Regions from separate parts of the Homo sapiens genome. Here all the other regions are linked to region 1. Evidence: fine-mapped expression QTL. A gene starts in region 1. Each other region holds a variant in brackets. All regions are shown on one strand. Distances are between the middles of the regions.

Region 1 (5,000 bases):
GTTGTTACATAGATGTACTCATACATAAAGTTTTGTTGAACTTAATAAGTGCACATTTAAACATATACATACATTTAAAAATTTATTTTTTTAATGGCAAAGCCTGTTGATGCTTAAATTGTAACTGATGTTTGCCTAAAAGTGAGGACAGTTCACTGGGAGCTGAGGGAGAGGAGCCTACTCAGTGAACTCCTACCCAACCTCCAGGACCCATCTCAAATTGTCCCTATTCTGTAAAGCCTTCTCCCACCGTTCTGGTTGTAACCTAATGTTCATATTGCGGGGCATCTCTTCACAACAATCAATCTTCTCTAAACCAGGAGCTAATCCTAGAGGAATGCAGGAACTTGTTGCACGAAGCATTGGTTAGTATGTGCTTATTAAACACTCAATGGTTGCCTAAGACAGACAGGTACACACACTCACACCCTCACAGTCCAGCAGAAGACACTAATGCCCACCCCCAAACAGGATGTCAGTTCTTCTCAGGCAACAGGATCCAGGCACTTGGCTTATTATCAAAAGAGATCACTTTCAACATCCCAGCCCAAGCCTCCTCCTTTAACACAAATCACAGCCAGAAGAGATCAGAGCGGCCCAGAGCAAACTCAGTTTCCAGTGTCCACCCCAGGAGGCTCCCCAGTCCTTTTGAGGTCACCTCTGCCGGCACTGTCCTTGCCCAACCTAGGGGTGGGGCAGACCCTGGGCTCCCAGGAAACATTCAATCAGGTGTAATGTTTAAACTTGACTGCTCGGCCATCCCCCAGCGCTGGGGCTCCCTACCCTATAACAGTAAAGTCGCTGCCCTGGCTGGGGGAGGGCACCCACAGCCCCATCGCCTCTCTGCCCAGGCCTCCCAGCTCGCTCCTAGCCACTCCTAACCTTGAACCCTCTAGAAACCCAAGCCAGCAGGGGAAGCAGCTACAGAAACTTCACCTGCACAGGTCAATGTGGGTGAAGAAGGGCCGGAAGTGGTGTTCTGTCTAGTTCTGCAAAGCCCATATATGAAAAAAAAGAAGCTGGAGATACAGTTCCATGAAGAACACCTGTCTGTTGGGTGGATAGGTTGTGGAGGGGAAATTATGGGTGACTTTTTTCCTTCAAATATTTTTGTGCTTTCTAAGTTTCCACATTGAATAAATTCTTTTGAAAGAGAAACACACTTCATGTGTGGCACCGCCATACCCAGCCGCTCTCCACCACTGGAGTTTCTCTTTCACCTCTTCTCAGCTACCTCCCAGGTAGAAGCCTTGGTCCCAGTGTCCTGTGCCCAGGCAGGGTCGGAGTTGGGGGCCAGCGTGGGGGAAGGGTGGGGCTCTCGCCCTCTCCCCAGTTAGAGTCCTGATCCTGCAGGGGAGGGGCAGCTCCCTAAGCAAAGTGGCCGCTGGAGTTGGGTGCTTGCCTGACCCCACCGATCCGATCCGCACCCCTGGCCCCGCTTTCCCCAACTCACCCCCTGAAGCGCCGCCCACCATTCAATTCCCCTTGCCTCGAAGGTACTTAGGAAGTGCGCGAACTCACACACACACACACACACACACACACACACACACACAGAGTCGCACTGTCTCCTCCCCTCCCTAACCTGGGCCACCGCCCCCAAGAGCCCACGTACAAACTTCTCCAAACTCGCAGCGGTGACTGGAGGGGGTGGTGACGTCCCCCTAATGAAAATGCGAGCCCTCGCCCCACAACACACACACGTGTGGCGCCCCACCCCCTGGGCAACTGTAAACCTGGCCGCGGCTGGCCGCCCTGGGGCTTGGGGGCGGGTATCCAACCCCAGCCTCCCACCTCGAGGCAAGTGACAGGAACAACGAGCGGCCGGCGAGCGGGGGCGGCGCGGGGGAGTTGCCAAGTGTCGGAGCGGCGCCCCGGGCCCCCCGAGCGCCCAGCCATCCCGGGGCGAGCCTGGGCTGCGTTACCTTGCAGGTTCTGCACTCGGATGTCGCTAATCTGCCCGATGAGCTCCTCGCGTTGGAACCAGTCCCACTCGTGTGCAGCCATGAAGCGCGGGCGGGAGAGCCCGGGCCAGCGCGGCGCGGGCGGCGGGCGCGGAGAGCCTGGCTGGCGGGCGCGCGAGCGGCACGCACCCGGCGAGGGCGCCGCGGAGCTGGAGTCGCGGCGGGCGCGGGCGGGGCGCGGGCGCGGGCGGGGCGGGGCGGGGCGGGGAGGGGCGGGCGGCGCGGTCGGGGCCGCCCCCGCCGCGGGCTGGCGCGAGCGAGCGCGGGGCGGCGGGTGCGGGGCGGCGGGCTCGCTCTCACTCCCCCGTGCGGGGGCGGGGGCCCTGAGGAGCGAGGGGCGAGGGGCGAGGGGCGGGGCGGGGCGGGGCAGGGGCGGGAGGCTGGGTCAGGCCAGCTTGTGTTTTTTTTCTTTCCGGGGTGTTTGTAGGTTGGATTGTTTGGTTACAAACCGGCTGTGATGAGGCGCGGGTCCCGGCCCCCAGATTGTGATGTCTCAGGGGGCGGTGGGCCGGGTGACGCAACTGGGGGTGGGCCCGTGGGTCCCAGTACCTGGTCCAGGAGGCAGCGTCTCCCTCCCGTCCGGGATAAGACACCCCCTCCGCGGGTCCCCTGTCCACTCTGGAGAGGCAGCCCCCACTTGGAGGGACCAGGACCCGAGCCCTGCCCATCCCCGAATCCTGGGAGCCCTGCGTGGGGAGTGTCGAGGGCCTGGGTCGGGGGGCAAACTAGTGTGGAGGTAAAGTTGTGGGAGTCTCCAAAGTGCGGGGGGGCTGTGAAAGAAGGGCCTTCTTCGTTGGTTTAGATACTAGGAGCCTTTTCCGGTCCAGTAATGTGACTCCAGCTTCTAGGAAGGAACAAGAAGCAGGCCAACTCCTAGGAGCTGGGGTACGCTGTGGGGTCTCTGGCCACTGAGTCTCCAAGTGACCCTCTGTGGGGTCACTGGAAATTAGTGAAAATGCCAGGACAGAACTTCCTGTGGAGACTACTGAAAATGCCAGGACAGGCCTTCCGGTCCCCTCCCTCCCCACCTCCACTGTTGAACTCTAGAGAATTCCAGGATCTTATCCTGTTTGGTGCCCACCATGTGGTTTACACTCCTTAAAAGTGAGACCCTACAGTTACCGAATTTGCCCAAGGTTGAGGAATGACTTAGGAGCAGGAAGTCCCAGCCCCCTGCTCCCAGCTCAGTGCTTGGGCCCTTTCTGTGACAACTAAGGCCACAAAGAAAATGGCTTTAAATATTCAGTGTTCCAAGAGGGGGAAAAAAATGGACAGGGCTCACTGGGCATTTAAACACATGGGCCTGTGTGCATCGCTGCTCTGTTCACAGCAATGAATCCCGGAAACCCGGCTGCTCACTAATTACCCAGTAACTATGGAGGTCCCCCGAAGGACAGACCTGTGCCCTTGAGGCAGGGCCCTGAAGGAGGGTGAGTCTACCCTCCAGTCATCCATTGGGGCAGGGGCTATCGTGTGGCCCTTAAACAAGGAAAGGAGATTTCTAAAGTGGACTCCAGAAAGGAGAAAGTCAATTTGGGTTAAGGAACTGTGAATGCGGGTGGAGGGCAGCAGAGGTCTCTAAAGACTGACCTTGGAGCTGAGCCCAGAAGGAGGAGAGGAACCCCCACAGGGACAGCAGTTTGGGCGGGGAAAGGTGGGATCAGTGGAGACAGAAGTGGAGGCCCCATTAGGGGCTCCTTGGTGCTTGGGCTTGAGGCAGGAGCTTCCTTGCTGCTGCCTTGATTCTTAATCTTGTGGTCATTTCACACTCCAAGGAGCAGGATCTCTTTCTGCGTCCTGTGGAGCCAGGGTGGTAGTAGCAGCCAGGCTAATTTTGCCCCATCTGCTAGCCATCTCCCTGTTCTTACACTTCAATTTATTTTCCATAATTGCTGTGGGGTGAAGTTGTGCTGAAAACCATTTTCTTTACAAAGCAGAGAGCTAAGAGAATCAGCCTTCTTCTCCATCATGAGAGAGGTTGCAGGGAATCTGTCTTTAAGCAATGTGCCCTGTGGATGTTAGCTACAGGGTTGGGCCATTTTTCATGATGCAAAGATGTCTGATCCTGGGAATGGACAGCCACATCATTTGGGGAACACTACCCAGTCAGCAACAGCTCCCTGGCAGGGAGGGACTATGATCACCATCGATTGAGCACCAACTGTATACCAGTTGTTGGACGACTCTCAGCCTAAAGAACTTCTTTGCTTTTCAGTAAGGTGGAAAGAATTTTAGGTGTTTTTCAAAAAGGAATAGAAGCCAGTATTGAGCATGAGGCTGGCCTCTAAAAGGTACTTGAATATTCATTGAACTCATGTGTCAATATCACCCCTGTTTCCTAGAGTGTCTCTGGGCTCCTCTGTGGGGCACACTAAGTCATCTGTGATTGATCTGTGCCCCTCAATCCTGGCTCTACACTTTTTGACCCAGCAGTGCTGAGCTGCCTCAGGTCCTGGCCACATCCAGTCACTTCCAGACCTTTGCTCATTTGTCCCCTTTGAAACGCCCTTCCCCTGCTCCCTGCACTTCACCTTTACCTAGCTTACTCCTGCTTAATCATGTGCACCTCAGAGACTTCTCCAACACCACTAGGCTCAGCTGGGTGCCTGTCTTGTACAATTCCCGTAATATTAAGTACAATCACATAATATTCCATGAACTCTGCAATTCTGTTTCCTGATTGCATCGTACTACAATTATGTTTACTTGACAGTTTTCCCCAATAAATTGTGAAGTACGTGAAAACAAGGGCTGCTCTGTGTCTGGCACAGGGAGAGGTGTCGAAATTAAATGGATGGATGAATGAATGACTCTCACTATAGGCCTGAACCCAGAAACCAGGGGACCAAAGTGAAAAAAACAGTTGACCTTCATGTCCAAGGCCCCAGTACGCTCCTGGAAAGGTGATTTTAAAAAAGTTTGCATATGTGCGATAGGCAAAGCACGTGCTTTTGGGAACCAGGTACATACCAATCTATGATATGTCCCTTCCTCTGGGTGTGTGCAGCCTCCTGGATCTGGAGTTCTGGCTGGGAG
Region 2 (6,650 bases), 21 kb after region 1:
GGCTGCTAGCACAGAGCTGGGTGTGGTGTAAATGCTCAGCCGACCCTTGTCAAGCCCAGGGGTCAGTTCCTTGGTCCTCTTCTTTTATCAGTTACACTTACTCCTTGGTTATCTCATCTAAGCTCGGAGCTTTATTTCCCCACCTATACACTGATAACTCCCACCTTTACATCTTCCCATAGCCAACTGCAGGTGTGATATCTAGCAGGTGTCTCAAATTCAACTCGTCCCAAACTGGCCTCCTTATTTTTTCTCCAAAACCAGCTCTTCCACAATTTTCCTGATCTTTGTATTTGGGTTCTCTAACTTTGCAGTTACTCTGGCTAAAAACCGTGGGGTCATTCTCATCTCCTTCATTTCTCAGGTATTTTACCTTCAATCCACAAGGACATCTTGTCAGTTTAACCTCAAAAAAAATCTATAATCCAACTAGTTCTTCCTGCCTTCACTGCCACCATCAGCTCTCACTGGCATCACTGCCATGGCTTCCTGACCTGTCTGCCTACATCCATCCCTGCTCCCCTGCATCCTGTTAACCACTAAGGTGATGATGCTTCTCTGCCCCAGCCCTCTTGTGGCCCCTCATCTCTCCCATGGGGAGATTCACTGAGGCCACTGACATAGTGCCTGTCATTCATGAAAGGGGACTGCTATGGTGAATGGAATGATAAAGGCCATAGCATGGTCATGGAAACACAGGGCAGAGGGGACTCATTCCAACCATTGGAAGGAGAGGGCTTCCAGAAGGAGGCATCATTGGTTCTAAGCTTTGAACCCTGAGTCTGTCTATTATGTTGTCTAGAGACATGCAGATAATAGTGCCTGTAACGCTGCACTCTGGCGAGGGTGTCCACCGAGGGCTGATTCCACCAGACAGTCTGTCCCAGCTCTCTCTGTGCTCCTGTGTGCCAGCACTGGGTAGGTTCTCAGGTTGCCCAGGGCCCAACATCCTCATTGCAGAAGCAGATATTCCAGCGGGCTCAACAGAAGCAACTATGCACACGAGAATGCTCCTTGAGAGTGGCATAAGGGCTGTTACTATTATTATTTATTTAATATAATATAACAATAAATTCCTTCACCTGCTTCTTTCTCATCCATTGGTGTGAGCTCAAAGGATGCAGATCTTTTTTTTTTCTTTTCTTTTCTTTTTTTTTTTTTTGGAGATGGAGTTTTTCTCTTCTTGCCCAAGCTGGAGTGCCATGGCGCTATCTTGGCTCACTGCAACCTCCGCCTCCCAGGTTCAAGCGATTCTCTTGCCTTAGCCTTCTGAGTAGCTGGGATTACAGGCACACGCCAGGACGTCCGGCTAATTTTTTGTATCTTTAGTAGAAAAAGGTTTCACCATGTTAGCTAGGCTGGTCTCGAACTCCTGACCTCAGGTGATCTGCCTGCCTTGGCCTCCCAAAGTTCTGGGATTATAGGCATGAGCCACAGCACCTGGCCAGATCATTTTTAATGTTAGCCAGAACTAAGGAAGGGCCCCGTTTCAACTGCAAAAAGTCCAGACCAGCAGAGTTGAGCTTCACTCCTCCTCCACTTTCTGGGATCTGGTCCCATGCGTGCTACATGGATGATCTCACTTCTTTTTCATGTAGTCCTGCAAGGTAGGTACTACTGTCACCACTTTACAGGCTGGGTGGTGAAGCCACCTGCTCACAGTGCCACCGCCAGTGAAGGGCAGAGCCAAGACAGGAATCAGGTCTGTCTGTCACCAAAGTGCCATGTTCTTAGCCACTATACTGCACTACAGCCTGGGAGACTTGCAGAGCCACGGGGAAGTCACACGTGGATCTTTCTTTCTAGGCTGATCCATGACCTACCTCTCAGTTCCTGGGCAGGTGAGTGCCGACCCGAAGTGCTTGCTCCGTGGGCTTGTCCTGCCTTGCACCCACTGCAATGCCTTCCAGGTTGAGGTGCGCTGGGCACACGCCCAGAGACCTTTGCACTGCCGTTTGAAAAGTTATTTAATGAGAAACTTTTTGTACTTCTCTTGTCCTCTTGCCAGAGGCTTCTGTATACATAACTCTGCAAACTGCTCTGCTATTTGCTCATAGAAGTCAAGTTGATTTTTAGTCTCTCTTCCTTCTATGTAGATCCCTCTAAATAGTTCTATGGCCATTTCCTTTTTTATAACTATATATCTTTATAACTATGTCTTCCTTTATTTATAGGTGTATGTAGGTGCTATTCTTTCTCCTTTATTTATAAGCATTTCAACAGAGGACCAGGATCTGAAGCCAAAAAGTGAGAATTATCTGGGTCTTTTAGTTTTTTTGTTTTTTAATATTTATGGGTACATAGTAGGTATATATATTTGTGTGGTACATAAGATATATGGATACGGAGAATTGCCTGTTTATTCATCGAAGACCTAGAAAATAATTCACAGAGAGCAGGTCAGGTTCAATGTGAAGCTTCCATAAAGTCAAATTCCTGCTGCAGAAAAATGTGGGGAGAATCAAAGTTCTGGCCCTGAGCCTCATCAGCTCTGAGCCTTCGCCCTCCTCCCCTCCTGTGCAGGGGGTGGAAACCACATGGGCTTTGGCATCAGAAGGACGGGGACTCAAATTCCAGCTCTGCCAGTGTCCTTGGGCATGTTCCTAAACTGCCCTGATGATGTTTACCTGGCAAGATCTTGGGAGGATTGGTGTCATAAAGCTCACAAAGGTCCCAGCACAGAGGCCAACACACAGATGGTGCCCAACTCTCTTTGTGGGCTGTGCCTTGACTCCCGAAAGATTAGGTGTGTGGGCGGAGCCGGACAAAGGCACAATGCCATGCTGATCCGGCCAGTCTGTTTCCTGCCTGGGGCGTGTTCTCTCACAGCAAGGCCCCGGAGAGAACTCCAGGAAGAGACACACTGAGAAAGTGAGCTTTTATGGACCACACTAGCTCACACCCAATTATTATCATGATGAAATGGTTTTCCCAAGGGCTGGTATGAAAGATTGTAGATTTTGTGGATTCCTTGCTTTGGTTTTATTTCCTTCCACCAACTTAATGATGGGTCACTTTGCTAGTGACCTGTCATTCACCAGCCCCACCTTGGTAAACAGCAGCAGGATGTGATTTTTGAGTCAGTTTCTCTATATGCTGGAAACATTGTGAGCGGGGATGAGGGAGAGGGCAGAGATTGGTTTGTTCAATCAACAAATATTTATTGAGCTCCTGATAAGTGCCAGACATGGTGCTAGCACCAGGGATGTGGAAATGAACAGGTGCCTCCCCTCATGGAGCTTACATTCTCTTATGGAGGCTGAATAAGCAAATAAAATGTCAGGTAGCAGTAAGTGCTATGAAGACATGTAAGGCAGGGCAGGAGGATGGAGAGAAATGAAGGGAAGAGATGGTGCTGTTTGAGATAGAGTGGTTAGGAAGGGGCTCTCTGAAGAAGTGACATTTGAACAAGGACTTGAATGAGGATGTTACCTATGTGAGGAACAGCAAATGTAAAGACACTGAGGTGGTGTATTAGTCAGCTATTGCTACAATGATGCTGCATAATACACATCCTATGACTCAGTGGCTGAAAACAATAATTATTTGTTCTTGATGATGCTTCTGCAGGTCCACTAGTGAGCGGCTGATGTAGGATGGGCTCAGCTGGGCTTGACTTCAAGCTGCATATCTGTGTCTCTCATCCTCTTTGCATCAGCAGGCTAGGGAGGGCATGTTCTCAGGTTGGTGGCAGCAGAGGGATAGGACAAACAGAAAGAAGTGATTCACTTTAGGGCCTCACTTGGAACTGACACACCGTGAGTCTACTCATATTTTACTGACCAAGACATAGCACAACGCCAAGCTTAACATCCATGGAGCTGAGAAGTATACTGTACCTCTAGTAGTAGGAATGGCAAATGGCAGAGGGCATGGACAGGGAGATGGGTGAAGAATTGGGAACATCAGTGCTGTCTGCCACAAGTGGGAACTAGCTTTGTGTGCTGAAGCATCAGCAACAAGGTCGGGATGGCCAATGTGGAGTGAATGAGGC[G/A]GAGAGGGGAAAAGATGAGGTCAGGACCTGGATGGCAGCCACTTCATAAATGTCCTTGATAAGAAGTTGGACTTATTCTAAGTGTAATGGGAAGCCACTGGAGGCTGGTTTTTTTCCTTTAATTTTAATTGGCATATATCACATACTATAAAGCACACAAATATTAGTTAAATATACAGTTCGATGATAAGTTTTTAGAAAGTGAAAAGTTAGTTTTGACTTTTTTTAGCTTTATATAAATGGAATTAAACTGTACATATTCCTTTGTGCCTGTTTTCTTTTGATCAGCTTTATGTCTGTGAGATTCATCTATGTCCTCACCTGGAGCAGTTATATCCTCCCCTATCACTGTATGGTATTCATCATATGACTATACCTCAATTTATTGATCTTTTCTATTGTTGATGGACATTTGAGTAGTTGCCAGTTTTGGGCTATGAAGAATAATCCTGCTAAGAATATTTTGTTTGTGTTTTCTGCTGCACAGATATAAACATTTCTGTTTGGTATATACGGAGGAGTGTGTATGTACCTGTTAATAGGGTATATGTATGGTCAGCTTTAGTAAATATGGCCAATAAATGTCATTATATATGTTAATATAGAAAACAGTATATTAATATATTACATAATATATAACAATATATATTACTATGTGTTATACAGATGTATAAAGGTATAAAACAAGTGTCTTCTCCTACTGTATGGCTTGCCTTTTGACTCTTAAAAGTGTCACTCAGTGAAGACTGGGCGTGGTGGCTCACACCTGTAATCCCAGCACTTTGGGAGGCTGAGGCAGGAGGATTGCTTGAGGCCAGGAGTTCGAGACCAGCCCTGGCAGCATAGCAAGACCCTGTCTCTACAAAAAAAGTTGAAAATTAACTAGGTGTGGTGCTATGCACTTATAGTCCCAGCTACTTGGGAAGCTGAGGTGTGAGGGATCACTTGAAGTTGGGAGTTTGAGGCTGCACTGAGCTCTGATCACACCACTGCACTGTAGCCCGAGTGAGACCCTGTCTCAAAAAAAAAAAAAAAAGTGTCATTTAGTGGACAGAAGTTCTTGGTTTTAATGTAATTCAATTCCTCAACTTTTTCCTTTATGGCTAATGCCTTTTGTATTCAGTTAAATGAATCTTTATCTTTACAAAGATCACAAATGTAATCTCCTATGTTTTCCTCTAGAAGCTTTATTGTTTTATTTTCAACATTTAAGGACTTGTATAGAGAATATTTAATGAACTGATACAGATCAAAAAGAAAAAGAATGGAGAGTTGTTGGTCAAAGGCACAAAGTTTCAGATAGAATGAGATTTGAGATCTATTGTATAGCACAGTGACTACAGCCAATAATAATGTATATTTTAAAATAACTTAGAAAGTGAATGTCCAATGTCTCACCACAAAAAATAATAAGTGAGGTGTTATATATGCTGATTAACTTAATTTATGTATTCCCCATTGTATACATATACATTGCACCCCATAAAAAAATATACAATTAGGCCAGGCATGGTGGCTCACACCTATAATCCCAGCACTTTGGGAGGCCGAGGTAGGCAGATCACCTGAGGTCAGGAGTTCAAGACCAGCCTGACCAACATGGAGAAACCCTGTCTCTACTAAAAATACAAAATTAGCCAGGTGTGGTGGCACATGCCTGTAGTCCCAGCTACTCAGGAGGCTAAGGCAGGAGAATCGCTTGAACCCAGGAGGCAAAGGTTGCGGTGAGCTGAAATCATGCCATTGCACTCCAGCCTCGGCATCAAGAGCAAAACTCCATCTCAAAAAAAAAAAAAGTATATATATGTGTATATATATGGATATATATGTGTATATATGTATACACAATTAATATTTGTCAGTTAAAATAATATTAATAAAACATTTTTAAAGAAAAAGACAAGCCAATTTTTTAAATGAGTAAGATTATTGAATAGGATCTTCACAAAAGGGGACATTCATATGGCCAATAAGCACACAAAAATGTCTGCAACATCATTAGTTATCAAAGAAGTATACATTTAAGTTATATGAGATTTCACTTCACATCCACCAAAATGACTAAAATTAAACAAAACATAGAAAATACCAAGTGTTTATGAGGATGTGCAGCAATTGCTGGTGGGACAGCATATTAAATACAACCACTTTGGAAAACTTGTGGTTTCTACTAAAGTTGGACATACATAGACCCTATTAGTATACACATCAGATGGGCCCAGGTTGAGGATAATCCTACAGAATAATTGAGAACATGAAAGATAGGGAAAGAATAAGAATAAGGATCCAGGGCCGGGTGCGGTGGCTCATGCCTGTAATCCCAGCACTTTGGGAGGCCGAGGCGGGTGTATCACCCGAGGTCAGGAGTTCAAGACCAGCCTGGCCAACATGGCGAGACCCTGTCTTTACTAAAAATACAAAAATTGGCTGGGTGTGGTGGCAGGCACCTGTAATCCCAGCTACTCGGGAGGCTGAGGCAGGAGAATCACTTGAACCCAGGAGGCAGAGGTTGCAGTGAGCCAAGACTGTGCCATTGCACTCCAGCCTGGGCAACAAGAGCAAAACTCCATCTCAAAAAAAAAAAAAAAAAAAAAAAGAATAAGGATCCATTCCAGATTGAAGGGGATAAAGAGAAACAACAATGAACTAGAACATC
Region 3 (7,137 bases), 35 kb after region 1:
TCACACATATTTAAAATGTAAACCTGGAGGAGTTTTGACATAGGTTTATGACTATACAAAGGGCACCATCCCCAAAAGCTTCCTTGGGCTACTTTGAAAGCCATTCCTCTCTCTCTGCTTTCTGATTGGTTTGCATTTTCTGGAATTTCATGCATCTTTTCTTTTTCTGGCTCTTCCTCCCAGCATGATAGCTACGCACTTCATCCATGTTGTTGCGGGGTGCCACAGGCATCCCTGCTTGACTACGTGCCTGTTTTTATTGTTATATAGATGCACCACCGTTTGTTGATCTGCTCATCTGCTGATGGGCCCCTGGGCTTTTTCTCGTTTTTAGCTATTAAAAATAAAACTGTTATAAGCATTCATGTAATGATCCTTGTGTGGAAATATGCTGGCATTTCTTTCTTTCTTTCTTTCTTTCCTTCTTTTTTTATTTTTTGAGACACAGTCTCACCTTCACCCAGGCTGGAGGGCAGTGGCGGGATTTTGGCTCAGTGTAACCTCTGCCTTCTGGGTTCAAGCGACTCTCCTGTCTCACTCTCCCAAGTAGCTGGGACTACAGGTGCCACCACCACGCCCAGCTAGTTTTCATATTTTTAGTAGACACAGGGTTTCACCATGTTGGCCAGGCTAGTCTTGAACTCCTGACCTCAAGTGATCTGCCCGCCTCAGCCTCCCAAAGTGTCGGGAATACAGGCATGAGCCACCATGCCCAGCCGTGCTTGCATTTCTTTTGTGTAAATATGTAGGGATGGAATGGCTGAATCATATGTAGGTATGTATTTAGCTTTTATAAAAACCACCAAACTGTGCTTCCAACGTGGCTGTTCCATTTTACATGCCCACCAGCAGTGCTGGACACCCTACATTGCTCTCCATCCTTAGAAATACTTGGTATGGTCTGTCTGTTTAAAATAGTGAAGAGCTTTAGAAGTGATAAATACCGTATGTTGGTAAATATAAAATATATTATTTCTTTTAGAAAATCCCTTTAACGGCTTGGCAATGTTGTCCATGCCTGTAATCCCAGTGCTTTGGGAGGCTGAGGCAGGAGGATTGCTTCAGGCCAGGAGTTTGAGACCAGCCTGGGCAACATAGCAAGACCTTGTCTCTACAAAAATAAACACAAATAAAAAAAGTTAGCCAGGTGTGGTGGTGCACACCTCTAGTTCTAGATATTTGGGAGGCTGAAGTGGGAAGATGGCCTGGGTGACAGATCAAGACCCTCTCTGTAAAATAAATAAATAAATAAATAAATAAATAAATAAATCCTTTAAAAGGTAATTATTAAAAGTAAAACTACTATCAACTAACATATTGTAAGGTGGAGTTTATAACATACATAGAAGTAAAAATATATGACAAATTAGAACAATGGCCAGGAGAGGAGAAATGGAAGTATACTGTTATAAAGTTTTCATATAGCACATGTCGTGTTATAATATCACTTGAAGGTAGATTGTAATAAGGGAAAAATGTGTACTATAACCCTAAAGCAACCACTAAAAGAAAACAGAGAGGGGTAGCCAAGAAGCCCACAAGAGATAAAATAGGATCATAAAAGAATTCTCAGCCGGACACAGTGGCTTACACCTGTAATCCCAGCACTTTGGGAGGCTGAGATGAGAGGGTCACCTGAGGTTAGGGGTTCAAGACCAGCCTGGCCAACATGGTGAAACCCCATCTCTACCAAAAATACAAAAATTAGCTGGGCGTGGTGGCAGGCACCTGTAGTCCTGGCTACTTGGGACGCTGAGGCAGGAGAATCACTTGGACCCAGGAGGTGGAGGTTGCAGCGAAGCTGAGATCACACCGCTATACTCCAGCCCGGGCAACAAGAGCGAAACTCCATTAAAAAAAAAAAAAAAGCTCAACCTAAAAGACGGCAGAAAAAGAGGAAAAGGAAACAACAGATGGCACGCTATCAACCAGCGTGACTTAGCTGATATTTATAAAACACTTCACCCAAGGACAACAGAATACACACTCCTCTCCAACGCACATGGAATATGTACCAAAGTAGGCCATATTCTGGGCTACAGAACAAGTCTTGATAAATGTAAATGAACCCCCACTTTACAAAATTTGCTCTGTGCTCACAAATTAGACATCAATACCCAAAAGACATCTGGAAAATGACATAATATTAGAAACAAAATAATATACATCTAAGTAATGCATGGGCCAAAGCAAAAATCAAAAGTTGCCCATATCAAAACATCTCATGTACCCCATAAATATATACACCTACTATGTACCCACAAAATTTAAAAATTGGGGTGGGGGGAGAGGGGAGCGATAGCATTAGGAGATATACCTAATGTAAATGACAAGTTAATGGGTGTAGCACACCAACATGGCACATATATACATATGTAACAAACCTGCACATTGTGCACATGTACCCTAGAACTTAAAGTATAATAAAAAAAATTAAAAAAAGAAGAAATCAAAAGTAACTCAAAGTGAATGAAAATAAAAACTGACATTATCAGTACTTGCAAGATGCAGCTAAAGTGGTGCTCAGAGGAAAATTCATAGCATGAATTGCCATTAAAAAAGAGGAAAGGGCCAGGCTTGGTGGCTCATGCCTGTAATCCCAGCAATTTGGGAGGCCAAGGTGGGCAGATCACGAGGTCAGGAGATTGAGACCATTCTGGCTAACACAGTGAAACCCTGTCTCCACTAAAAATACAAAAAAATTAGCCAGGTGTGGTGGCGGGCACCTGTAGTCCCAGCTACTTGGGAGACTGAGGCAGGAGAATGGTGTGAACCTGGGAGGCAGAGCTTGCGGTGAGCCGAGATGGCACCACTGCACTCCAGCCTGGGTGAGAGAGACAGACTCCGTCTCAAAAAAAAAAAAAAAGAGGAAAGGTCACGAAGCAATGACCTAGGCTTTTACCTTAGGAAACAAGAAAAGAGAGAGCAAATCAAGTCCAAAGTAAAAAGAAGAAAGGAAATAATAAAGTAAAATTAGGTATCAGTGACATTGAAAAGCCAAGAGGAGACAGAAACACAAAGTCAAATACTGCATGTTCTCACTTATAAGTGGGTGCTAAATGATGGGTACACAGGGGCATGCAGAGTGGAATAGTAGACATTGGAGATTATGAAACATGGGAGGGTGGGGATGGGGGTGAGGGATAGAAAATTCCCTATTGGATACAATGTTCACTCTTCAGATGATGTGTATAGGAAAAGCCCAGACTTTACCACTATGCAATATATGCATGGAAGAAACCTGCACTTGTACCCCCCAAAAATATACAAATAAAAAATTAAAAAGGAGAGAATGAAACAAAAGCTTTTTCTTTGAGAAAATCATAAAATTATATGCTTTCTTTTTTTCCCAAGAGTTGTATTCCCACCAGTTCTGAATTGCATTCCAGTGCCTTCAAATGGTTTTTTAAAAATTTGCTATTCAGAGATTTTAATGGTTACAATCAGGAGGCTTGGTCAGATTCAAGCCACCCCACCATTTACTGTACCTGGAACCCTGGCTTCCATAGCTACTTGTCACACTGTATGCTTCCTTCTGTAGCCTTCTCTCCTACTTATTTGATGTTTCCCATTGTCTGTGAGCCAGGAGATCGAATAATCATACTTGTGAGAATTGTATAACAGCCAGAATCAGTGGCTCTGGCAGACTCTCTGGTGAATGAGGTCTGTGCGTTTCCATTCAAACACCTCTTTTGTTTACTTCCCAGGAGATGGTATGATGTAATGAAATGGAGATGGGCCACAGAGTCTGACTTGACCGAGGTTCAAATCCTAGGTTTGCCACTTAGGAGTATCATGACCTTGGGCAATGTACCTCACCTCTGTGGACTCAGTTTCCTTACCTGTGAAATGAGGTTGCATTGAATCTCCAGACTGCTGTAGGGCCTAAAGGACATAATATATTGAAAGTTCCTAACATCACCCCTGGCACCCCCTGGTGCTCAGCACAAATGACCTTTCCTTCCTTAACCCTTTCCCTCCTGTCCTGGAGAATATCTGTTGACTGGTAAGTTACCTCCAGATGAGTAAATCAGGGTGTGTCGAGGTATTAATATATATTTGAGCCAATTTGCTTTTTAAGTTTTCTTTGTGCGTGTGCTAACAAATTGTAAAGGCATCAAAGATTCTATTCACTACTTTCCAGTTCCTTGGCCACCCCCCTCTGCCACCGTTAGGCTGAATCAGCTCTGGTCCTGAGTCCCCCACCAGAATGACTATGTCTGGGGCCAATAAAGTCCATTGCCCATCCCAGGGGGCACTATTGGCCATCATTAACATTAAATTCTATAGTCCTGGCCGGAGCGAGAACCCATTCTCTCCCCAGTCACCAGGACAGGACCAGCAGGCTGGGAATGTCACTTTATTTGGATTTGGTTCATGGGATGGGGGTCTCAGAACAAATTGGAAGGCCTCACAC[C/A]GGCAACTGGGCCCAACCAGCTGGGCTCCTGACCCGGGACCTCGTTCTGGCCTGTCTCCCCAAAGCTTATCCACCTAGGATGAGTGCCTTGAAAGTGTACCAAAAATAGAAGTGGCGACGTTTTCAGGAGTTGGTGAAGTCTGACCTTTTACCCTTAGTGAGTCTGTGTAAGGCGTGAGACAACATGGTCTGTCGTCCTTTACGTGCAGGTTTTGGGCAGATGTGCAGATGACGCATCTACCTGCCTTGGGTGTAGTGTGGCGGCCACCAGACCAAGCCTCGTCCAGCTGCCTTCTGCTGAACAGCTGTGGACCCATAAAAGGAAATGCCAGACCTCCCAGCTCTTGCCTCAGAGACAAGCCTCCCTCACATCTATCTCCTCCACCAGCCCTCCCCTGAAAACTGAATTTAAAATCAAGCAGGGCTAGGGAGTCACCGCTCCTGGGGTGTTTTCAGGAATTATCACAGGCCCTGTTCAAAGTGTATAATGTTCTTAAACTGACAGGATTAGGGGATTAAAATTGTATACATTCTAGAATCCAGGTATCAGAAACTCTCTTGAGAAAAAAATGCCTGGCTTGGTGGAGGGGAGTTAAAGTGCTGTAATATCTAGCAGGTGTCTTCAAAGGCCTGCACATGGCCCACGCATTGTCTAACTATGCACTTGTTCATGTGTTGCTTCATTCATTCATGCACATTTATTCATTAGATTGTTTATTTGTTCACACATCAAAATAATATTTCTTGAGCACCTATTATGTGCCAGACACTGAGCTGGGTACTGGGGTTGCTGGGGCAAATGTGATGGCCCAACTTTGCCTCTTCAATACCCACTCCCCATTCTTCTGGCATCAACATCCTGAATTTGTTTAGGGGACAGCCCATCCAATGGACAGAGCCTGAGTGGGGCCCACATCCAAGTGGGGCCTGCCCTTCTGTGGCCCAGTGCAGGCCAGTCAAGAGTATTCCCCCTGGAATTGGAATCTTGAGCAGCATAACATGACAGGGACAAAGGATTACTCTTCATGTATAGCCCTGGCACCCCCAGAGACTCTCCATGTGCCCCTGCCCTGGATCACTGCTGTTCTCTGAACCCAGTCTGGTTTTTATTCTAATTCTTTGAGCTCTCCCAAATCCTCCCAATCAATTTTGCTTTGCTTAAGTAAGCCAGTTTTATTTCCGTTACTAGCAACTCCAGAGCCCTAATATATTCTCTATCCCCCAAGAGCTCACAGTCTCGTAGGACAGACAAGTAAACCAATGATTTGGGCTCAGATACCCTTATAGCAATTACACTGAGCGTTCTGAGAGCCCAGAGGAAGGGCCTTGATTAATTTCTTAGCCTCAGTTTCTCTTTAAATGAAGAGCCCTGTAAACCACTCCAGGTATTCCAGTTATTCATTGCTTTATAATATACCATCCACAGCTGTATGGCTTAAAATATGGATGCATTATTGTCTCCTGTGGTTCTGGGATTTGACTGGACTCAGCCAGTTCTTGCGTAGGTTCTCTTATGCTGTTTGTAGTTGGATTCAGCTGGGGTTGGAATTATCTGAGGGCTTGACGTTGCAGGACGTCCAAGATGGCTCACACAGCATGATGACCTGCTGGTCGTCAACTGGGAGCATGGCTAAGGCTGTCCCTGGGAACATCCATATATGGCCTCTCTGTGTAAAGAATTTTACAACACAGAGTGCTCCAAGATCAACCCCAGAGACCCCAGTGGACACTGCAAGGCTTCTTATGACCTAGCCCTAGAAGTCCCAGAATACCACTAATGACCACTTTATATTTGTCAAGCAAGTCTGTAAGGCCAGCCCAGATTCCAGGGGAGGCAAATTAGACCCCACATCCTAATGAGAGAATGAGACAGTCCTACTACAGGTACAGCATGTGGGATGGGAGCTACTGTTGTGGCCATCTTTGGGAAACATGATTTCTCTCACCAGGTATTCCTTCTAGAACATTCCTTGGGCTACTCACATGCCCAAAATAGGTGGCAGATCTTTGGTGCTTGATCCTAAGTCTCTCCTATGTTAGATGTGACTAATTACTTTGGAAATACCAGTCCCCAGAGTCTTCTGGCATTGTCATGAAGCTTTGTCAACAGAATCAGACCAACCCTCAAAGCTTTAGATTCAAACTCTGTGTTTTCGTCTCAGTTCTAACGCTGAGTTGCTGTGTGAACTTGGTAAGTTGCTTCATCTCTCTGACCCTCAATTTCCTGCTCTGTAAAGGTGACTATTAAACATAGCAGTCCTGCTGAACTCCTGGGATTATGGTGAAAACAAAATGAAATTTTGCAAGTGAAGGAGATTTGTTAACTGTAAAGACCAGGGCACACATAGCAGATTATGGTGATGCCGGCTCCATTGAGGAAGGCACTTTCTATACATTACTCTCCCCAAATCCCTGTAAGGCAGGCAGGCAGCCTTGTAAGTGAGGAAATTAGCTCAAATTCCATTTCTTATTTAAGCCACTTGCTATAAAATTTGAGTCCAGATCTTCTGCAGGCCCCAATCCCTGAGTGGGCTTTTTTTCTTTTTCTCCTTTCCTTTTTTTTTTTTTTTTTTTTTTTTTTTTGGGACAGTCTCGCTCTGTCACCCATGCTGGAGTGCAGTAGCATGATCTTGGTTCACTGAAACCTCCACCTCCCAGGTTCAAGCGATACTTGTGCCTTAGCCTCCCAAGTAGCTGGGATTACAGTCATGCGCCACCAT

Evidence for each region. PIP is the estimated chance that this variant, and not a neighbour inherited with it, causes the effect. A credible set is the group of variants that fine-mapping cannot tell apart.
Region 2: its variant is the best candidate, but not a certain one, in a credible set for the expression of CLMN in whole blood (TOPMed, PIP 0.88).
Region 3: its variant is the best candidate, but not a certain one, in a credible set for the expression of CLMN in monocytes after interferon gamma (Fairfax 2014, PIP 0.72).

What each region holds. Positions count from the first base shown.
Region 1 is chr14:95,317,786-95,322,785 of GRCh38, forward strand. CLMN (calmin) reads right to left here and starts at 2,123. Exons shown (of 13, transcript NM_024734.4): 1 at 1,926-2,123. The coding sequence starts at 2,007. RefSeq lists enhancers at 994-1,113, 1,134-1,213 and a silencer at 1,844-2,103.
Region 2 is chr14:95,337,771-95,344,420 of GRCh38, forward strand. LOC124903371 (a long non-coding RNA gene) reads right to left here and starts at 1,918. Exons shown (of 2, transcript XR_007064319.1): 1 at 1,824-1,918; 2 at 1-1,323. The variant G/A (reference allele first, on the strand shown) is at 3,995.
Region 3 is chr14:95,351,950-95,359,086 of GRCh38, forward strand. All of the region lies in intron 2 of LOC107984710 (a long non-coding RNA gene), which reads left to right. Among named protein-coding and RNA genes, the nearest start is that of LINC02292, 26 kb to the left of the region's middle. The variant C/A (reference allele first, on the strand shown) is at 4,418.